Regions from separate parts of the Homo sapiens genome. Here region 1 is linked to region 2. The links come from fine-mapping of genetic effects on gene expression. A gene starts in region 2. The other region holds a variant in brackets. All regions are shown on one strand. Distances are between the middles of the regions. Region 1 overlaps DOCK3 (dedicator of cytokinesis 3). Region 2 holds the start of MANF (mesencephalic astrocyte derived neurotrophic factor).

Region 1 (2,914 bases), 180 kb after region 2:
GGCACCTATTTGTCACTTCACTCGACTGCAAGTCCTTAGATGATAAGGACTGTGTCTTGCTAATCATCTCCACCATGTAGCAAAACTTGTAGCACATAATAAGTGCTTAATATAATATTTGTTGAACAAATAAATGGAATAATTGCCAAGGTCAATTGGTTATTTCTTATAGCTTAAATGTTGCTAATTAAAACTTTGCCATCATTCTGCATCAGAATTACATTACACTAAGGCAGATATTGAGGAAAACATTCTGCATTATGGTCATCTTATGAAATCATTACTAGATTTATCTTAAGAGGAAAACAGTAAAAGAGCAGTGAAAACAATCACATTTCTGGGGAAAGTAAAGGAAAAATGAATGGTCATATTTGTGCCTATTTGAGTCAAGGAGGATGGGAGCACCAATGGCTGGAAGTATGCTTGAAAGAAACTCCTGGTAGCTTCAAAGGAAAGATTGTTTGAAATCAAATGTCATGCAGATTCATTTGCAGATTGCCAAGACTGAACTCTCGAAATTTTGCAGTCTACTCATGACTGGCTATAAAAAACATTTAGCTTTGCAGAACTGCCAAGTTATTGTTACAAAGGCATCAATTTACCTTCAATTACCAATGCTTCCTTTTATTCTCTTAATACAGCACTTGCTTTCAAATACTATATGCTGTTAACAATGAATTCTTTCTTTCTATCTATCTATTAACTGATCTATACAGGGTCTCACTGTCGCCCAGGCTGGAGTGTAGCGGTACAATCACTGGTCACTGCAGCCTTCACCTCCCCAGGCTCAGGTGATCCCCCTACCTCAGTCTCCAGAGCACCTGGGACCACAGGCACACACCACCATGCCGAGCTAATTTTTGTCTTTTTTTTTTTTTTGTAGAGATAAGGTTTCACCATGTTGCCCAGGCTGGTCTCGAACTCCTGAACTCAAGCGATCCTCCCGCCTTAGCCCTCAAAGTGCTAAGATCACAGTCATGAGCCACCACACCTGGGCCAATTGTTCAGTTTTTAAAATTATTCTCTTTAGTCCTAACCCCATCAAAGTCTTCATCATTTCATGCCTCTCTATCTTACTCTTCCATTCTTTTAGCAGCATCCTCGTGTTATACCTGATGTAGTTATTAAAGGCATATTTAGGTAAAAGTGCTTTCTAAATCCTTAAACCTCATACTGTGGTGATAGATGTGGACCTTCTTTTTCTTTTTTTTTCACTGTATTTATTTATTTATTTATTTTTATTATTATACTTTAAGTTTTAGCGTACATGTGCACAATGTGCAGGTAAGTTACATATGTATACATGTGACATGCTGGTGCGCTGCACCCACTAACTCGTCATCCAGCATTAGGTATATCTCCCAATGCTATCCCTCCCCCCTACCCCCACCCCACAACAGTCCCCAGAGTGTGATGTTCCCCGTCCTGTGTCCATGTGTTCCCATTGTTCAATTCCCACCTATGAGTGAGAACATG[C/T]GGTGTTTGGTTTTTTGTTCTTGCGATAGTTTACTGAGAATGATGATTTCCAATTTCATCCATGTCCCTACAAAGGACATGAACTCATCCTTTTTTATGGCTGCATAGTATTCCATGGTGTATATGTGCCACATTTTCTTAATCCAGTCTATCATTGTTGTACATTTGGGTTGGTTCCAAGTCTTTGCTATTGTGAATAGTGCCGCAATAAACATACATGTGCATGTGTCTTTATAGCAGCATGATTTATAGTCCTTTGGGTATATACCCAGTAATGGGATGGCTGGGTCAAATGGTATTTCTAGTTCTAGATCCCTGAGGAATCGCCACACTGACTTCCACAATGGTTGAACTAGTTTACAGTCCCACCAACAGTGTAAAAGTATTCCTATTTCTCCACATCCTCTCCAGCACCTGTTGTTTCCTGACTTTTTAATGATTGCCATTCTAACTGGTGTGAGATGATATCTCATTGTGGTTTTGATTTGCATTTCTCTGATGGCCAGTGATGGTGAGCATTTTTTCATGTGTTTTTTGGCTGCATAAATGTCTTCTTTTGAGAAGTGTCTGTTCATATCCTTCGCCCACTTTTTGATGGGGTTGTTTGTTTTTTTCTTGTAAATTTGTTTGAGTTCATTGTAGATTCTGGATATTAGCCCTTTGTCAGATGAGTAGGTTGTGAAAATTTTCTCCCATTTTGTGGGTTGCCTGTTCACTCTGATGGTAGTTTCTTTTGCTGTGCAGAAGCTCTTTAGTTTAATTAGATCCCATTTGTCAATTTTGGCTTTTGTTGCCATTGCTTTTGGTGTTTTAGACATGAAGTCCTTGCCCATGCCTATGTCCTGAATGGTAATGCCTAGGTTTTCTTCTAGGGTTTTTATGGTTTTAGGTCTAACGTTTAAGTCTTTAATCCATCTTGAATTGATTTTTGTATAAGGTGTAAGGAAGGGATCCAGTTTCAGCTTTCTACATATTGCTAGCCAATTTTCCCAGCACCATTTATTAAATAGGGAATCCTTTCCCCATTGCTTGTTTTTGTCAGGTTTGTCAAAGATCAGATAGTTGTAGATACGCGGAGTTATTTCTGAGGGCTCTGTTCTGTTCCATTGATCTATATCTCTGTTTTGGTACCAGTACCATGCTGTTTTGGTTACTGTAGCCTTGTAGTATAATTTGAAGTCAGGTAGCGTGATGCCTCCAGCTTTGTTCTTTTGGCTTAGGATTGACTTGGCAATGCAGGCTCTTTTTTGGTTCTATATGAACTTTAAAGTAGTTTTTTCCAATTCTGTGAAGAAAGTCATTGGTAGCTTGATGGGGATGGCATTGAATCTATAAATTACCTTGGGCAGTATGGCCATTTTCACAGTATTGATTCTTCCTATCCATGAGCATGGAATGTTCTTCCATTTGTTTGTATCCTCTTTAATTTCACTGAGCA
Region 2 (2,914 bases):
TGATATTCCCAGTGCCTAGCACATAGTAGGTGCTTAATAAAGACTAACAGGATAAAAAAAAATCACAGTTGCAGAACACATGCTGCTTTGGGAAGGACATAGAAGCACTTCAGTCTTCTCACATTAGTTTATGGAGAGAGTAGCTGGCTTCCTGAACAGAGAGGTGGGCAAGGCCTTTTATCAAACGGCTGGTGAAGCCGAGGGTTAACATGAGCCAGGGCCAGTTGGGGAGGATCACCAGCTACTTACCAACCGATTCTCTTTGCCTCTTGCTTCCCGGCAGAACTTTATAAGTTCGTTTTCAATAGTGGCTGGTGAGAATGTGACATCTCTGTCTTTGAGGTCCTGGTAAAATCTTCCCAGATAAGAAATACAAACTGGAAAAGAGAGGGACGGGAGATGCTCAGCAATCACCAAGCTGTTCCAATCCACCAGAAAAGAACTCCGCCAGCAATTTTAATAGGAGACACGGAGATGAATCATTAGAGGTGAGCTTTTCCATCACCGATTTTTCTCAGGTGTCTACAGGTAGACAGAACCCGGTTCCAAGTGGCGGGGGTCCCCTGGTACACCCAGGGCATCAAAGGACCAAGCATCACCCAATGACCTATAAACGACTTCTCCCTGCTCCTTTCATCAAGTTTAAGCCCATGGTGAACACGTGTCCTTGAGACGGGACTCACTGTGACCTCATAAATGGAGAGACTGGAAGGTGAAGAGAAAAATGATCAAAATGCTGCTGCTAATTTCCAAATACAACAGCGGACCCAGAGGTGCAGCTTCGTGATCCCAACAGACAGGGCGCAGCACCCACGGCCAGCCCTGGAGCTCCCGACGCCGAACGGGGAGCGGTAACCTCTAGATGGTGGTGGGGACAATAACTCAGGAGTGATGGAGATTTCAGGACAAGTTTTCAACGGGATCTAGTCTCAACTTTTCTTCGTCGGACCAATGTTTTCTAGGCCCAAGAAAGATTTACTAGGGCGGGCGCCGGAGCCTCCTCATGCAGGCCCCGCGGGGACCTGCTGTCGCCCCCGCCCCCGCCCCCGCCCTCGCCCTCTTGGCCCCGGCCGTCTGGTGATGTTGTGGGGTTCAGCGCCGCCGCCAGAACGGTCACGGAGCGCGGCCCCCGGCCCCCTATCCCGCACCTTCGCAGTCGCCCGGCCGCAGCGCCCGGCTGCCCGGCAGCACGCTCAGAGCCAGCGCCACCGCCAGCCCCTGCGTGGCCCACATCCTCCTCATCCTCCTCATCCTCCTCCTCCTCCTCCTCCTCCGCTGCCGCCGCCGACCGACTGAACCGCACCCGCCGCGCCGCACCGCCTCCAAGTCCCGGCCGCGCGCCGTAGCTCCCCATTGGCGGGGGGCCCCCCGGCGCCCTCCCACATGCCACTTCCCCATTGGTCCAGGAGCCGCGAGCCCAGACGGGCGGCTCCACGCTGCCCTCCCTCATTGGCTGGTGGTGTCTGAGCCCTAGACAGTTGTCGGCCGCTGATTGAACCCGGGCTGGCCGCAGGAAGCGACTACAGCAGCGACGGAAGCGGTGTGGGCCGCCATCTTGGGTAAGGGCAGCGACTGTGGCTGAGGCTGGGTACTGCTAGCTGAATGGGGTTCGGCCACGCCTTACATCTGTTGAGTTGACCCGCGTACCCCTGCCCTGGGCCCCAGGCTCCCTCGAAAACCCCTGCTGATCTCCTCGCCCGGACTCCGACTCGTGGTGCAGGAGTTCTGGGGTCAGCCAAGACAACAGGTTAGGCAGGAAGGGCGGGCGGCCGCAGGCAAGGCTCAAAGAGGTTTCTTTTTTCTTCTTTCATTCGCGTGGGCAACGGATCCAACCTTTGAAAGCCCACCTGCTGATCCTCCACCTGACCGGAGCCCGCCGTGCATAGGCTGATAGGAGACGTGCGGGGTGGACGGACTGCGGGACATCTGAAGGAAGGGCTCAAGGCGCGCCAAGCTCAAAGCTGGGCCGCCACTCTAGACCGTGGAGGGAAGCGCCCGGGCCAGATCATCGGTCGAGGACATGGGGTCGCCTCAGAGTGGGAAGGTGAGGGGCTCGGGAGGTGCCCTTACAAGCTCTGAATCGTGGCTTGGTGGCTGGCCAGCCTCCTCCTGCCTCCCCGGCTAGGCCCTCGGGGTCCCCCGCTGCCGTGGGACCTCCTGAGTGGGGTCCCGGGAATCACCAGAGAAGCACTGGAGGATGTTTCCTTTTCGACTGCCCTCCTTTCAAGTGCCCTCCTGGCTGCCTGCCTTCAAGGCAGGATGCGGGAACCGTTGGCTCTACTCAGTGCAAAAAGGACATGTCTATAGGGCTAAAAAGGGCTTGGAGCCCGGCGACAAGGGTTGGAGAGGGGCACATCCTCTGCTCCCATTCAGTGAATTCAGTGGATCAGTATCACGTATTTATCTTTAATTCACATCACAGCAGTCAAGGAAGTGGGGAAAGGGGGAAAAAAAATCAAGTGGCAGATATTTACATCTAAAATTCACATTACTTGTTGGATTTTGAACATGCTACCACAATATATACAGTAAAATACCTCTTGGGACAATGGTACAAATTTTGTTTCCTTTAACTTTGCTTTTCTGGTACAGGTAAGATCATTTTTAAATCACTTTTTTTCTTTAAACATGAATACACAAAAGAAATGGTTAGAAGTTTCCTTGTTTTAAATAAGCACAGAATGCGGGAGGTTAAAAACACATTTATAGTGCTGAATACCAATTGGACATCACACTCTATACATTTTTTGCTCAAATTCCTGTACAAATACACAGCATTCAAATAGGTATTTACAAATAAGCTTGAAAGAATGAAAATCAGTATTTTACAATCTTTTCAAAGGGTTCTCATCTCTGGCCTCCCATTTCCCCTCAGACTGACTTATTCTCCAACAAAAGGGATTTCAGAATGTGT

Evidence for each region. PIP is the estimated chance that this variant, and not a neighbour inherited with it, causes the effect.
Region 1: its variant is fine-mapped to the expression of MANF in whole blood (TOPMed, PIP above 0.99).

Annotation. Positions count from the first base shown.
Region 1 is chr3:51,203,496-51,206,409 of GRCh38, reverse strand. The region is part of intron 12 of DOCK3 (dedicator of cytokinesis 3); the gene reads right to left. Among named protein-coding and RNA genes, the nearest start is that of MANF, 180 kb to the left of the region's middle. The variant C/T (reference allele first, on the strand shown) is at 1,477.
Region 2 is chr3:51,383,671-51,386,584 of GRCh38, reverse strand. MANF (mesencephalic astrocyte derived neurotrophic factor) reads right to left here and starts at 1,294. Exons shown (of 4, transcript NM_006010.6): 1 at 1,149-1,294; 2 at 250-377. The coding sequence starts at 1,242. DOCK3 (dedicator of cytokinesis 3) reads right to left here. Exons shown (of 53, transcript NM_004947.5): 53 at 2,387-2,914. RefSeq lists a silencer at 1,099-1,468 and an enhancer at 1,529-1,878.